Linked DNA regions of Homo sapiens. The protein of the gene in region 2 interacts with the protein of the main gene of each other region in a pairwise test. Each region holds a gene or a part of one and is shown on either strand. Other genes may lie near its edges. The genes, in order: MYBPC3 and MYH7.

What was found.
Region 1: the proteins of MYH7 (region 2) and MYBPC3 interact in a two-hybrid assay, tested with the Homo sapiens proteins (2 studies listed by IntAct).

Annotation. Positions count from the first base shown.
Region 1 is NC_000011.10:47,342,703-47,349,702, forward strand, and holds part of MYBPC3 (myosin-binding protein C, cardiac-type), read right to left. Parts: intron 5,840-7,000; coding exon 5,722-5,839; intron 5,204-5,721; coding exon 5,155-5,203; intron 4,979-5,154; coding exon 4,949-4,978; intron 4,778-4,948; coding exon 4,724-4,777; intron 4,328-4,723; coding exon 4,325-4,327; intron 3,943-4,324; coding exon 3,925-3,942; intron 3,669-3,924; coding exon 3,505-3,668; intron 923-3,504; coding exon 790-922; intron 561-789; coding exon 558-560; intron 444-557; coding exon 319-443; intron 234-318; coding exon 128-233; intron 43-127; coding exon 1-42. UniProt on the Homo sapiens protein: Thick filament-associated protein located in the crossbridge region of vertebrate striated muscle a bands. In vitro it binds MHC, F-actin and native thin filaments, and modifies the activity of actin-activated myosin ATPase.
Region 2 is NC_000014.9:23,432,661-23,441,797, reverse strand, and holds the start of MYH7 (myosin-7), read left to right. Parts: upstream 1-6,137; 5' UTR 6,138-6,178; intron 6,179-7,548; 5' UTR 7,549-7,604; intron 7,605-8,057; 5' UTR 8,058-8,065; coding exon 8,066-8,266; intron 8,267-8,570; coding exon 8,571-8,714; intron 8,715-9,002; coding exon 9,003-9,137. UniProt on the Homo sapiens protein: Myosins are actin-based motor molecules with ATPase activity essential for muscle contraction. Forms regular bipolar thick filaments that, together with actin thin filaments, constitute the fundamental contractile unit of skeletal and cardiac muscle.

The DNA.
Region 1 (7,000 bases), on a different chromosome or scaffold from region 2:
TTGAAGGTCTCCTCCCGGGTCAGCTCCACCCCGTCCTTCAGCCTAGCCGGGTGGGTGGGTGGCAAGTGCTGTGGCCTCTTCTGGGCAGATGCCCCCAACACCCATGCCCCGTGCTTCTGGAACTCACCATTTGACTTGCGCCCCCTCCTCCGATACTTCACACTCAAACTCCACCCGCTGCCCCACCATCACCAGCTGGTCCTCCAAGGGGCGCGTGATGAGCACAGGGGGCTCTGTCCAGGCAGGGTGAGCATGAGGGTTGGCTCCCCTGAGGCCATCTCCTCCCCAGGTTCCCACATCCTCAGGTCCCAGGCCCACCTTTCACAAAGAGCTCCGTGCTACACTTCTCGCCACCCACCACGCACTGGTAGGCTGCGTCGTCCGCCAATGAGCACTGGCTGATGGTCAGGGTACGCTTGGCACCGATGGACTCAAAGATGTACCTGGGTGGGGGCCGCAGGGAAGTGGCAGGAAAGCTGCGGACACCCCTCCGGGCCCAGTGCGCCCCATGATAATCCCTGTGCCCCCCACCCCAAGCCATCCAGAGGGGAACTTACTTGCTGTAGAACAGAAGGGGCCGTTGAAGTGTTCCCGACGGGAGGAAGTGAGCCCGAGACAAAAGGAGAGAGAGAGAGGGACCGGCAGGAGCAAAAGGATGGGAAATTAGGCCCAGAGAGATGGGGCTGAGAGCCACACCGAGTCAGAGATACGCATGTGGAGAGGGGCAGGAGGCAAGGCTATGGGGGTCCCCACCTCCACCCGAGCCCCCCTCCCCACCCCAGGCTGCACCTGCCGCTCATCTGGATCTCCTGGCCATTCTTGAGCCATTTGACCTCAGCGTCATGGTCAGCCAGTTCCACGGTCAGCCGGATCTTGTGGCCTTTGCTCACCTGGTAGGCCGGCTCCAGCTTCTTCTGAAAGGCTGAGCACCACCCCTCAGCCCCGGCCACCCCACCGCCCGCACCCTGCTCCCCCAGGCCAAGCTACTGTGGCTGTGGCTGGGGCCCAGGTCCCCCCCTCCAATCCCCTCTGTGCCGCCCCGCTTCCACTTCTCTGTGTCTCTATTTCTTTTTGTTTTGTTTGTTTGTCTGTTTGTTTGTTTTTTGGACAGAGTCTTGCTCTGTTGGCCAGGCTGGAGTGCAATGGCGCCATCTTGGCTCACTGCAACCTCTGCCTCCCAGGTTCAAGTGATTCTCCTGCCTCGGCCTCCCGAGTAGCTGGGATTACAGGCATGTGCCACCACGCCCAGCTAATTTTTGTATTTTTAGTAGAGACGGGGTTTTACCATGTTGGCCGGGCTGGTCTTGAAATCCTGACCTCAGGTGATGCGCCCGCCTCAGCCTCCCAAAGTGCTGGGATTACAGGCATGGTGTCTTCATTTCTTTATCTGTGTCTATGTGTCAACCCACCTCCTTGTCTCTGTCTGTCTGACCTTGTCCTTCTGTCTTCCTTGGGGTCCTCTCCACCTGCTCAGCTCAGGGATTGGGTTAGGGGCTTCCAGAAAGACAGAAGCTTGTCAGGAGAACTGGGGCTGGGACAGCTGTGCCTTCTCTTCTCTCAGCAACCCCTGAGTTGTGTACTCTTCCCAGGCGCTCCCACCTAGCAGCCCTCTGTGCCCAGCACTCTCACTCCCATCTCAGCCCCCAGGGCCAGTGCGGTGGTCCCCATGCTGCTGCAGTGGGGGAAATAGGGCTCAGAGAGGCGACTGGCCCAATGCCACCAGCCCAGCAGGTGTGTGGCAGAGCTGGGTCTTGAGCCCAGCCCTGCTCCACAACAATGCCTCCTCTTGCGGCCGTGTTTGTAAAAGCCCATGTTGCTGCTGCTGAGCCCAGGGAGGAAGTGGGGGCTCCATCCACCGAGCAGAGAAGGACCCCTGAGTCCTCAAATACTCTGGCTGGGCCTGGAGTCAGCTGCGGAGGGGCAGAGATCTACTGCTGGGTGCTCTGTGACCTTGCGCTAGTTCCTTAAACCCTCTGTGCCTCGGTTTCCTCAGTAACATGGAAATGGTAATAGTCCTTCCATCATAGTGTTGTTTCGAGAATTAAATGAGATAATTACATAAAGCACCTAGTGGCTGGCTTAGGAAGGAACTCACTCACTTTTTTTGAGATGGAGTCTCATTCTGTCACCCAGGTTGGAGTGCAATGGCACAATCCTGACTCACTGCAACCTCTGCCTCCCGGGTTCAAGTGATTCTCCTGCCTCAGCCTCCGGAGTAGCTGGGATTACAGGCGCCTGCCACCATGCCCAGGTAATTTTGTATTTTTAGTAGAGACGGGGTTTCACCATGTTGGTCAGGCTGGTCTTGAACGCCTAACCTCAGGTGATCCACCTGCCTCGGCCTCCCAAAGTGCTGGGATTACAGGCGTGAGCCACTGCACCTGGCCAGCAATTTGCTCTTTTTACTGTTGTTGCTATTCCTGGAAGACACCCCTACCCTCGGAGGTCCCCATCTGCCTTGCCAGCCTCCATCTTTTCCTCCTTGGGCACCTACAGTCCTTTGCTTGGTGCCCTCTGGGCTCAGCAGTTCAGGAGTTAACCCAGAGGAACATTGGTGGCATTCAGGGGATCCCTGGCTTAAATGGGGCCACGGTGCCGGTAAGGGCCAGGCCACCTAGCGATGGGGTGATGGGAAACCCAGTGAGGCTGAGACAACAGGGAGGCAGGGCAGAGGGATAAGGGGCCTGGGGGAGGTCAGCAGGGAGGGACTAACCAGCTCCTCTCCCCGTCCCCATGATCGTGTGTGTTTTGTGTGTGTGCTTTGGGAGGGGCTTGTCTCCCATATCCTGCATGGAAGCTGACCCCTCCATTCAGTCGGTGTTTATAGAGCGCTCGAGGTGTGTGCCAGGCCCTGTGCTAGACCCAGACATGGTGGGGAGAAGGCATGTGAGACCCCTGCTTTCCCGGCTCACACCCGCCCTTGTCAACCCCTCAGTGGAGAAGGGCTATTCCTGGGCTCTCCTCTTTCCATCTGCCTGGGGGTGAGGGTAGTTAACCCAAGCCCTCCTGCTTTGTTTGCCTGAGAGAAAGATTAGCCAGGCTCTTTTCTTTGCCTGTGTGTGGCTCTCCAGGCTTAGCGGGCCTCTTCCCTTTTCTTTTGGGTGTGGAGAGGGTTAACCGGGCTTCATTTCTTTTCAGAAGAGGGTAGAGAAAGAAAGTGTAGCCTGATTTTTCCTTGGTGAGGAGGGTTAACCTGAGCTCTGTCCTTTTCCTTGTGGCTGTCCTGGCCTAACTTTTGCTCTTCTCTTCTATCTCTGTGGTAAGGGGCTAACCTGGGCATTCTTGGCTTTTTCTACACAAGGAGGGGTTAACCTGGGCTCTTCTTTCCTGTGAGTCTCTGTGCTAAGCCGGACTCCGCTCTTTCCATGTATGTGGACGAGGTGGGGGGCTAACCTGTGCCCTCTCCTCTCCCCTGTGGGGAAGGGCTAACCTATGCCCTCTCCTCTCCTGTGTAGGGAAGGGCTAGCCTGTGCCCTCTCCTCTCCCCTCTGAGGAAGGGCTAACCTGTGCTCTTCTTCTCATCGCGCCTCATGCCCTTGAGCCTCTTTAGCATGCCGCGCAGGTCAGTGACGCCGTACTGGAAGGCGATGCGCTCGTACTCAGATGGGGGTGCCTGCCGTAGGATCTCCCACACGTCCTCCTCTGCTGGTGCCTCCAGCTTCGAGTCCCTGTGTCCCGCAGTCTAGGCTGTGGCCGGGGGCAAGACTGCAGCCCCCTGGGCGGGGCTTCCTGGGCCCAGGACCAAGGAGCTGTAGCCACCCCTGTCCCTCTGCCCCTTCCCTTCTGGTGGGGCAGCTGGAGCTGCTCTGGGTCCCAGGCCAGGCAGGACTGGGGGCCAAGGGAGCTGAAGAGGGGCTGGGGATCTGGAGGGGCTCCTGGCAGAATTAGGGGTGATGAGGGTGCTGTGCTATGTTGGGCACTCACCTCGGGGTCCGGAAACTGCTGCTCCAGGGGTGGGGGTGGGAGAAAGGGTAGGTGGCACATGAGAGGTATGGCCACCTTCCCTCAAAGACCTGGACCCCACCCATGGGCCTTTACTTCCTCCCTATTTTCCGCACTTGCACTCCCTGTGTTGTGGGGCACCCATGCTGCTCCGGAGGCTCTGGCAGGACCTCCTGTGTGCATTACTTTTTCTTATCCCTCCTAAGCTCTGACAGATAGGTGGGTGGCAGGAGAAGCCCAAGGCACAGAGACTCACCCCTGTCCGTGGGGAGCCGCACCCTGCTCTGAGTCTCTCACCACAGCCTCTCAGAGAGGGGACGGGAATCCCCTCTGCACCCACCAGCGCCCTGCCGCCCCCAAACACCCAGACCCCGATTCTTACTCTCTGGGCCACAGCAGCAGCAGCCATAATGGAGGGGCCGGGGGAGAGGGAGAGAGAGGGCAGAGAGAACATAAGTCAGTTGGGCCGACCTGGTAGACCCTGCAGCTCTGGGGACCCTCTCTCTGTTCCTTCTGGGTCCCCGGAGTTTACGGAGGGAGCTTTTGCAGCCTCAAGTGTGGAGTGGCCGTGGGGGACACTGTGAGGATGACTGTTGACGGGACATAATGTCTGCAGAGCCCTTTAACTCCTTCCACACTGGGATCATCCCCTCGACAGACAAGGAAACCAACTCAGAGAGGTGCAGTGTTGTGCTCAGGGTCACACAGCTGGCAAACCACAGTGCTGGGATTTGGAGCCAGGCCTCACCAGCTGCCCCAGGAACTGCCACCCAGGACTCACCTCTTTTTCAGCAGTGAGCTGAAGTCCAGAATCCCAGTGTCCTCATGGCTATCACTATGGAGAGGGACCCCCAGTGAGGCTGCAGTGAGGGACTGGAAAGGGATTAGGAGCAGGATGGGAGTGGAGTGGGGAGGGAGAAAGGGACACTAGCCAGATTGGGCTCCCACCCGTCTCAGACCCCTGGGGGTCTGCGGATGGTGCAGGTAGGGCCTGGGGCAGGGGTACCTGATCCGCCGACCACCTCCAGCCAGGCTCCTGTGGGGGTTAGACTCAGTATCCTCACCTGCCTGGGAAGCTTGCTCTCCCCTGCAGCCCCCACTGACTTCAGCTCCGCCCCGCAAATCATCCCCAGCCCTGACCCCCAGTCGAGACCCTGAAGGGCCTCAGACTCCAGCACTGGCCTCCCCCAGGCCCTGAGGATGGCCACTCACGTGCGGCGGAAGGCTGATAGGAGGTCCAGGTCTCCGGTGCCCATGGCCTCTGGGTTCAAAGGGTGGAGAGATGGGGGAAGGGGCTTCAGAGGGGGCCGTTTGAGAAGCCCTGCCCTGGGGGCGGCCTCTGAGTATTCACAGACTTGCCCATTCATGACCCCATGAGGCTGGGCATCTGCCCCAGGATCTCACCTTCCCAGCCTTTCCCAGGGTCAAGGTACCAGGCAGGTGGGACGGTTTATTGTCCCCAATTCCCACCCATCTCTCAACTCACCTTCACCCATCGCCCAAACATTCAGACAGTGCCAGGCCATGGGCCAGGAGCCGTGACACCAAGATGATAAAACAGAGTCCCACCCAGATGAGACCCGGACTCAGCCCTAAGCCCCCACGCCTACCCTGCAAGCCTTGGGGTTTCTCTCACACCCTGTGTGTGCAGCACTGGGCACGTGGCCAGCACTCATGTCTGGATGGGACGAGGCATCCTCCTTAGTGTTGGGAAAAGGAGGTAGGAGACCAGGACCCATGGGGAGCCCGAGCCCAGGACAGACACCAGGGCCCCCTCACCGTGGACAGTGAGATTGAAGTTGGAGCAGTCAAATTTGTCCTTGGTGGACACCTCACAGCGGTAGCTGCCAGTGAAGGCAGGCTGGGCATCGGTGATGTGCAGCTCGAACAGATAGACCTGTGTGCATGGAGGGACGGGGCGTCAGGGGACACCAGGGGCCGGGAGACAAGGCTCCGCACCCTTAAAGGAGACTGGGAGTGGCCGGGCGCGGTGGCTCAGGCCTGTAATCCCCACTTTGGGAGGCTGAGGCGGGCGGATCACATAAGACCAGGAGCTCCAGACCAGCCTGGCCAACGTGGTGAAATTCCGTCTCTACTAAAAATAACGAAAATTAGCCAAGTATGGTGGTGCACACCTCTAGTTTCAGCTACTCGGGAGGCTGAGGTGGGAGAATCGCTTGAACCCAGGAGGTGGAGGTTGCAGTGAGCCGAGATTGAGCCACTGCACTCCAGCCTGAGCGACAGAGCGAGACCCTGTCTCAAATTATATATATATATATATATTTAAAGGAGGCTGGGAGTGACAAATGCTCATCGATCTTCGCACCCTCAGGCTTTAGTTAACCCATACAGAGTTTTTGTACAGAGAAAGGGGACTATCTCGAAACCCATGATTGCCATCTGCTGGCACATGGTTGTGGTGAAATACAGGCTTTTGTGCAATGCACAGCCCCGCACAGCAGAACATGTTGGCCTCTCTTGCTAGAGGCCCCCTTGCCTAGCCCAGGACTGGGGAAGGTTGGGAAAAGCAGAGGCTTGGAGTGAACAAACAAGGGGACTTAAGCCTTAAGGTTCTGGTGGGCAGGGCGGAAAAAAACAAAACACAAAAAACGAAGGCTTAAGGTTCTAGGCCTATGTCTAAGTGACCTTGGAGCAGCCACTTAACCTCTCAAGCTTTGGTTTCCGTGTCTGTATAATGAGGAATTGTTCTGGTTAATCCCTGAGAGTCCCTTGAGCCCTTAGCCCTGATACTCACCCATCCAGGGGCTTTACAACCCCACTAGCTGGTGCCCCCATGCTTCACAGTGTCCTCCAGGCTTCCTGACCACCCTGGGCGACCCCCCACCCCCGGCCAAACCTTATTAGGTGCCCCCTTGAGGTGATCATGTCCACCAAGTCTCCCAGGTCCCCGACAGTGCTCCCATGAGCCTCATCGCACTCCCTGGCCCCCAGGCCTCCGGGATCTCCCTGTGGGCCCCTGGCCCCTCCACCTGCCTCCCAGATTCCCCACACCCCTTGCTTGCAGCTCGTGTGTGCCTCTGGGTCTCATGGTGCCCTC
Region 2 (9,137 bases):
GATCATTCGCTAGGGCTACTCCCTGCCCTCCAGCCCTACTTTAATCTTTATACGATGGAACTCAGGAGGCTGAGACCCTTCTCCAGCCAGTGAGTGGGCCCAATGATGACAGCCAGGGCTGTATCGAGCTCTGCCTTGAGCTCCCTACGTGCATATCTGAAGATGAGGAGGGAGCCAGCTGAGCCTCATGTTTGCAAGCCCACTTTCTGGTGGTGGGTACCCAAACTCTCTAGGCATTCTCAAAGCACCCCCCAGGCTTCCAAAAAGGGAGATGAGAATAAGAAAACAACCAGAAAGTGCAAAAGAAAATGGTGAACAAAACAAGGGCATCTTTTATTACCCCCTCTTCACATATTCTGGAATACCCTACCTTAAAAACAAAACAAACCGTGCTACTTGGCCCTCTTCCCTTGAGTTGTTGTCTAATCTCATTCATTTCACTGCCAAACTCCTCAAATGCATGGTGTACACCCACTGCTTCCACTTCCTGTCCACTCATCTTTTTCCTCATTAACTCCCTGTGGCCTGGCTTTGCCTGTGACACTACACAAGCTGCTTGCTCCAAGATAATCCAAGTTCTTTTCTCTGTCTTCCTGATACACAGGCTTTCTTTGGCATCTGACACTGCTGGCCACCTGCTCTTCTTGAAATGCTTCTTTTGGCTTCTAGGAAACTGCCCATTTCTCACTCTCCTTAGCTGTCTTTGAATCTCCTTCTCTTCTCTGCGGGCTTCTCTTCCTTCTCCCATCGCTGTACTGTGGGTATCTCCCAGGCCTTTCCTCTTCTCTCCAACCTCATGGCTTCTTTCACATCCCCCGAGGTAGTCAGCCCTCTTTATCCAGTTCTGCCCACTGGTCTCATAGCTCCAGCTTCCTTCAGGAAAGCAAAACATCTTCCATTGGTTGCCCCACTCTTACCTCCATTTCCCCCAAACGGAACACTGTCCTTCCTCCTACGTGTCCCTTTTGCCATTATTCCCATCCTTGCCGACATCGTGCAGTCATGCCTCTCCCTTCCTCATTTCTTGCGTCCAGGCTGTTAGCAAGGCATTTTATTCCTTCTTTAGAAAGGCCTTCCAGCCTTGCCTTTCCGCTTCATGCTGCTGGTCTCGCTTTCCTGCCAACGTTGATGGCTACTGTATCCTCCTCTCGGGTCTCCCTGCCTCCAGCCTCTCTTCCGCAAAGCACCCAATAATACCCCTGCTAGGCCCATCAAACTCTGGTTTCAAGACATCACAATGACTGCCATGGTTTAGAACTTTAGTCATTCCTCATTGCTTCCAGGGTATTATCCATTTTGCTGTCCTGGGAAACAGGGCAGAGTCCGTAGAAAGCCCTTTGAGCAAGACAGACCTGGGTCTGAATCCCAGTGCCACGTTTGCTACTTACCTTGAGCAAACATCTTAGCCTCTCTGAACCCCATTGCTCCTCCATAAAACACAATTAAAGTGACACACAATTGTGAACATGTGTGAGATCATGGTGTATAAAACACTGTGCACCTGGCACAGGTGGTCACTCAATATGTATATAGCCCTTTCCCCTCTCCGACATTGGGGCCCTACCTTTTTTTCCTTCCACCTATGTCTCCAGATCCCCCATACGCATAGCCTCATCAGGCATGTGTCCTCCGAGTCCTTATGAACTCACCACACCGTTCCCCTTCCATGCCTTTGGTCACTCTGTGATTCTCATTGCCCAGAACATATCCTGATACTCAGTGCTTCTTAAAGCCCTCCCCTCACCAAGCTCCACTGTCATGTCCCCATCTTGAAAGCTTATTTTATTTTATTTTATTTTGGGACAGAGTCTCACTCTGTCCAGACTGGAGTGCAGTGGTGCGATCTCAGCTCACTTCAACCTCCGATTCCCAGATTCAAGTGATTCTCATGCTTCAGCGATTCTCATGCCTCCTGAGTAGCTGGGACTACAGGAGTGCACCACCATGCCCGGCTAATTTTTGTATTTTTTGTAGAGACGGGGTTTCACTATGTTGGTCAGGCTAGTCTCAAACTCCTGACCTCAAGTTATCTGCCTGCCTCAGCCTCTCAAACTGCTGTGATTACAGGTGTGAGCCACCAACGCCCAGCCTGCTCCTATCTGGTGGCCTGACCAATGTCACCACTTGGCCTGGGTCAACTCCTGCTGGACCTCAGGACACACTGGCTTGTCATGAGGGAAGCTCAGTGGGCAGCAGTCAAGCAGTGATGCCTATCCCAGCTCAGGGCTGGACTGTGGGCCTAGACTGAGTCTAGGACAGTCTGAGAACCTTGGCCTCCTGGCATGACGTTCCCAAGGGCAGTCACAGTCTGGGTAGAGCCGACCACAAGACTGCAGGATTTCTGATCTACTCTGGTCCAGACCATCCTTTGAACCAAGTGGACTTAGTGGGGCTGAAGGAGGTGTGGGGACAAAGAACCTATGGCAGGGCAACCGGCCCTCCTGTCTGCAGCCTGGCTTCCTCAATTTTGTGTTCCTAACCTAAGAGCTGCCATTCAGTGAGGGCCCACAGTGTGTCTGCTGTGTGTAGACTCTGCTTGTGCAATCTCTAATGGCCTGAGTAGCCCTGGAAACAAAATGTGGCTATCCCCATGTTACAGATGACAAAACTGGCTCAAAGCAATTATATGACTGACGTAGACCACACAGCTAGAAAATGGAATCACTGGGTTTCAAAGTGGATTTTTGTGACTGACTCCAAAGCTGACCAGACTGCTCATCCTGTATGCTTCTGAGGCCTCTGGCCCTCCAGACCGGTCACTCCCCACAAAGTCTCCCTTTTGGTGAGTTGTGTCCCTCCAAACACTCCCTGAAGGCAAGATCAACCTGCCCTAACTACCCCAAAGTGAACTAGGCCAGCCCCAAGCCTGTCTCCGGCCCTCCATCTCTCTCTTTGTTCACATCCATCAGAAAGCAGAGACCTAGAGTAGGGAATGAGAGGGGGTGCACAAGTACAAAAGATTTTGAAGCCAGCAGGAAGACAAAAGAATGACAAGAAGGAGCAGCTGTTTGTAAAGGGAAATCTGAGACAGGCAGAAAGCTCAGCTCCCTAATCCTAGGCTCGTGTGGAGCCAGGGCAGGGTCCCCCCAAGGTCAGGGATTCTGGGGGCAGGCGGATGGGAGAGTCAGCCTCCACTCCTGGGTGGCTCCCCTCTGCCCTGTGCACAAACAACGAGTGCCTCATTCCTCCCCTGCACCAAGTGCCCTGCCTCTTCCTGCCCCGTTTCTTCCTTCCCTTTGGGTACCGGAGCTTTTTTCTGATTCCCCTCTCTCCATGCTGACATCGCTTCTAATTCGCCCTGGTGTCTCCCTCCCTCACAATTACTGGGAGTAATTTTAGCAACTTTTCCTCTGAACTACCGCTGGCGTGTTCACAGCAAATGGCCCCTGTTTTGGCTTGACACTTGATCAGGGTGGTGACAGAGTGCAGACAAAGCCGGCACAATGCGGGGAGGGGAGGACGGGGGACAGATCACCTTCCTTTCACTTCAGGCCTTATTTGGTCTACCTTGCCGAAGCGGCCCTCCTTCCAGCCTCTCTTTATTTATAGCATTTTGCTTTGCTCTCCTTTATCTTGCTATCACTTTGTAGCACACTCTGCACAATCCCCACCCACCCCAGCATGGTGGGGCCCCTGGCCCCTCACTCTCCCCACAAGGAATGTGCATGTGTGCAAAGGGTAGGCCTGGATGCCATTTCTACAAACAGTTGACTAAAGCAGTCCAGAGCAGGGATCTTTCTTTGGGTCATTGTTATGTCCTTATTGACCAGAATAATGCCTGGCACATAGTAGGCACTCAATAAATACTTGTTGAATGGAGGAATCTGCAAAGCTGCTCAGTCTTCAGACAGCAGCAAGCAGCAGGAAGAGAATCATGATGTAACCAAGAGCAGGTGCTGGAGGAGCTAGGGAGTGAGTGGGGATCTTTAAGGACAGCAGGCCCTCTGATCTGTCTGAGCTGTGAGGCAAAGCCTAGTTAGGGAGGTGAGTTCTATCTGCAATGAGAGGGGGCATGGGTGGAGAACAGTAACACCCAAACACCAACAGACCAGAGCCTCCCAAACCCGAAAGGAGAGAAACAAAGTGTGATTGATTTCCCAAATGCAGAAAAGACTACCCAAGTCCCCAGCCAAGGAAGGACGCTGGCCTGTGGTGAAGACACTGGCTTTGAAATGGCTCAACTACGTCCCAAGCACCCTTTGTGCATCTTAATTGCCCTGGGAAATCAGGGAGGGGTGGCAGTTTGGAGCTTGGAAAGCTGGAAGGTGGGGACGAAAGGAGTTTTTGCCCCTCATCGCCAATCCTTGAGGTTCCTACAGGGAACCTCAGACAACAGCTGTCTTAGGGGTTTCCTTCCAGCTCCAAGCAGCTGTATTATCTATAGCTTTGAGAGGGTCTGTCTCTGTCAATGGGGCTGATTCCTCAGCACCTGGCAGGGCCTGGGGGGGACTGCCAGAGTCTGTTCTGCCGGGCATGTTAGTAGCACAGACTACTGGGATAACCTCAGCAACTGTATACCTTAGCACTGCAGAGCTGCGGTGTTGTCAGACACAGCCCTTGCAGTTCGTGGTCTACCCCCACTTGCCTGCACCCCCCTTATAGCTGCTCAATGTCCTCAGACTGTACCTTAGTGCCTTGGTTACCAAGCAACCCCCACAGAGGCCTCCTCCTGGATTTTCCCTTCCCTGCTATGCCCACCCCACCTTCAAAATGTACCTGCTGCACCCATCCCCCAGGCCTGCCTCACTCCTTCCAAGCTGACAGCTAATCAGATGGACTAATCCGCATGCGCGGAAGAGCTGTGCTTGGGAAGAAGGGGGAGATTTCACACCAAATCGTGCAGTGGTTGCCTAGACACGGAGCCAGTCAAGCTTGCATGCCCCGTTGCTAGAAGAGCATGGCATCGGTTGTGTTCTGTGCTCGTAGGCTGGGCCCCAGCTCCCTTTCCTCCCCTCCTTTGTGGCTGTTCCTCAGGCCTGCAGAGGGGAAGATTTTTCCTGTCCTGTTACTCTGCCTCACTTGCCAGAACACTAGTCGCCTCCAGCTCTGGATAAAGCTGAGGCTGGGTGGGCCAGACAACAGCTGTCTTAGGGGTCTCCTTCCAGCTCCAAGTAGTTGTATTATCTATAGCTCTGAGAGGGTCTGTCTCTGGGCTCAGGCCTTTAGTACCTGTGGGGCAGAGCCAGGAACGTGAGTCAGGCAAACCGCTCCAAACTAGGACCAATGCAGCTGGGTCCTGCTCTCTGCGCATAGGGGGTCCCCACATCTTTGGAATCCCAGCCCACCTTTCCAGGCTACCCTCCACAGGCCGGGCTCCACTCCCATCTGCTGAGGTTTCCCACCTTGAATCCTGCTGCCCCGATTAGCTGTATAACCTTAAAGAATGCACTGTCCCTCTCCATTAAATGAAGTGCTTGGATGGATTGCTAAAGGCCTGTCTGGCTCGGAGGCTTGGTGACCTCAACACATTGCCTGCTGGTCCAAGGAAATCAGTGCCTGAGCCAGAGTCCCCATCTCTAAGCTCCATGGTTATTGTTCTTGCCACCTGGCTAGGAAATGTCCTTCCAGCTGCCCCAGTCTAGCTGCCTCACCCTGGGGCCATGCCCCCAACTCTGTCCTACCCTTCTCTGCTGCTGACACTCAGCCCCTTCCCAGCTTCCAGTTGGATACAGGACCTGGGCCAGGAGAGCAGGGAGGACACTGTGGAAATGCGGCCAGGCCATCAGGGGCCTCGCAGCAGGGGACTGGAGGGGGAGCAGTGTCCAGGGCCAGAAGTGCCCTGCGGGAGAGCCAGGACATTGGCTGCCTGTGGTCTTGGTGGTCGTGGTCAGTTCCCTCTCCTGCCAGCTGTGGAATGTGAGGCCTGGCCTGGGAGATATTTTTGCTGCACTTTGAGCCACCCCGCCCCCTGGAACTCAGACCCTGCACAGTCCATGCCATAACAATGACGACCACTTCCAATTGTTTCCTAGCTGGAGAGGCGGGGAGGGGAGCACTGTTTGGGAAGGGGGGGAGCCTGGGGGAAATGCTTCTAGTGACAACAGCCCTTTCTAAATCCGGCTAGGGACTGGGTGCCGTTGGGGGTGGGGGTGCCCTGCTGCCCCATATATACAGCCCCTGAGACCAGGTCTGGCTCCACAGCTCTGTCCTGCTCTGTGTCTTTCCCTGCTGCTCTCAGGTAGGAGCGGGAGCTGGAGGCTTTACTCTGGGATAAGGGGGCTCCAGGCTTAGGAAGGGATTCCTCTTGGAATAGCAAGCTTCATGCAGGACTTCATGCAGAGTACCAGGTCCAGTCACTGGGCACACATGTGCAGGTCTAAACATGGGCGTATGTGCCACAGGAGTTCCTAGGGGAAGATATCTGCATCTGAGCATATGGGACCAATATGCATTACAGGGTGTGTGTGTGTGTGTGTGTGTGTGTGTGTGTGTGGACAAGCCTGCATAGTCTGAATGTGAGAAAGGGTATGTACCTCACTGACTGATACAGAAATATCAAGTGGGAGATGTGGGTGTATGATCACGTCTGTGAACGAGGAGGTTCCTTTGCAGGGAGGGAGAAAGAATGGTGGAGAAGGATTCTAGGAAGTGTGTATGCCTTCATGTGATTCTGTGAGGCCTGGAATGTGTAGCTACCCCTGTCCATGCATGCAGAGGTTCTTGTCTATGCCTCCACGAGTCATGACTGTTATAGTATCTGTACCCTCTGCAGAAGGAACTCACAGGCACGGGGGTGTAGGATGTTCCAGGTCTTTGTGTACTGAAGAACACGCAGTGATGTGATCTACTTACGTGGCACACATCCTGAAATGTGCACATTTGCTGTTGAGGCATATATGGCACCCTGGGGTTGGGGTGCGGATTGAGGTATGGGAAGGAAGCCTGTCTTCATGTGAGAGGCATGCCCAAGCAGCAGGCATGAGTGTTCATCAGAGGGCTTGTGGAGGGTGTTTGGCTATGTGATGGGTGTGTCTGTGAGAGGAAGCCCACAGTGTCTTCTCTCTGAGAATGTCCACAAAGTCTGACAACAAAATGGGGACAGGATGGAAAAGAAGTCTCTTTAGAGTCATCAGACTTGCATTCAAGTCTTGGCTCTCCCACTTGTTGTCATGGGCTCTTGGCCAAGCAAGCCATTTAACCTCGATTTCCTCATCTGTCAAATGGGGTGAAGACTGAGTAGGAGAAAGTGCATTGAAGTGCTTTTAGACTGGAAAGTGCCGAACAAATGTGACCATTAGTTGTCTCTCAGATGGCTCAAAGAAAGGTACCACTAGATGGGTACAGGCAGGGGTGGGACCATCTCGCAGGAGTGAAGAGGATTAGGGTTCAGGTTGAGTTGACACCAGGAAGCTGTTAGAACTAGTTCTTGAGGAAAAAGGGAATAGGGTTTGAAAAACAAGAAGGATGGGACCAGAGAAGCTGACCACCCTTTCCACCTTGTTTTGGAAGAGGGTGGATGCTGAAGAACAGAGCCAGGGAGAAGCAGGAAGGTGGGACTGGTCAGGTTGGGCACAGCCTGCCCTGACACAGCCTCTTCCCTCTCTCCAGGTCCCCTGCAGGCCTTGGCCCCTTTCCTCATCTGTAGACACACTTGAGTAGCCCAGGTAAGAAAAGCTGAAGCTAGAGTGTTGAAAATCTAGTAAGACTGGGCATTAGAGCCCCAAAGCCAGCCTATGGAACTCTAGTTTCTGCCATGTGCTGGAGAGAATATCTTGGCTATCAAGAGCTACTTACCTGTGACCAGGGGGTCCAGGGATAGATGAGGGTCAGAGATGGAAATAGTTAGATTTCTGCTCCTACAGGGAGCTCAGAATGCTCTTCCTTCCCCTAGGAGAGCCCCAGCTTGAACAATAGTTAGTTGTTCCTTTTACCCTGGCAGGTTTGCTAGGCTGCTCCTCTGGTTAAGGGGTAACCTCAAAGAGGAAGGGACTCACTGGTAACTCCTCTTGACTCTTGAGCATGGTGCTAGGTTTTGGGGCTCCCACTGAAGGGGAGAGCCCAGGGAGGGAAGGGAAGAATGGGCAGATGGGAGGGCAGCCAGCTTCTGCTCACTCCAGGCACAGCCATGGGAGATTCGGAGATGGCAGTCTTTGGGGCTGCCGCCCCCTACCTGCGCAAGTCAGAGAAGGAGCGGCTAGAAGCGCAGACCAGGCCTTTTGACCTCAAGAAGGATGTCTTCGTGCCTGATGACAAACAGGAGTTTGTCAAGGCCAAGATCGTGTCTCGAGAGGGTGGCAAAGTCACTGCCGAGACCGAGTATGGCAAGGTGGGTGTCAGGCTGATGTGAGAGTCCACCCTGGCCACCTGTACACCTGGGTGGACAGAGAGGGGTACACCCATGCCCCATGCCCATGCAGACCTGAGGATGGTCCCATTCTCCTTCCCTTTGGGGAAGAATCCAGACCCTCCAAAGAGCCCTCTCCTTCCCAATATCCCTTCTGTCTTCCCTGTGAGATCCTGGTTCCTTCTCTCTTGAGCACTATTGCCCTGTCACTCACCAACTCCTAACCCTCTTGAGGAAGGAGGGAAAGCCCAGGCTGACAGGAGGGCTTGGGTGGGGGCTCTTGCAGACAGTGACCGTGAAGGAGGACCAGGTGATGCAGCAGAACCCACCCAAGTTCGACAAAATCGAGGACATGGCCATGCTGACCTTCCTGCATGAGCCCGCGGTGCTCTACAACCTCAAGGATCGCTACGGCTCCTGGATGATCTACGTGAGTGCTGCACCTGGCCCTACGTTGGGATCTCTGTTCTTGCTCCATCCATGTCCACCCCAGGAGCCAAGAGTGTCTTCTGTTTGTGTCTAGGCAGGGTTACACTCTAACCTCGTCCCAACATCCTTGGTTCAATTCCAACACTCTGGGGACTGGCATTACTCAGATTGAGTGCATGCAGAGGTTTTCCTTTCTCTTCTTTCTCTCCTGGGATCTTTCTCTAACTCCCAAAATCACCAGCCCTCCCCCTTCGCAACTGGCAAGTCACTGCTCCTTTTCTATCCCCAGACCTACTCGGGCCTCTTCTGTGTCACCGTCAACCCTTACAAGTGGCTGCCGGTGTACACTCCTGAGGTGGTGGCTGCCTACCGGGGCAAGAAGAGGAGCGAGGCCCCGCCCCACATCTTCTCCATCTCCGACAAC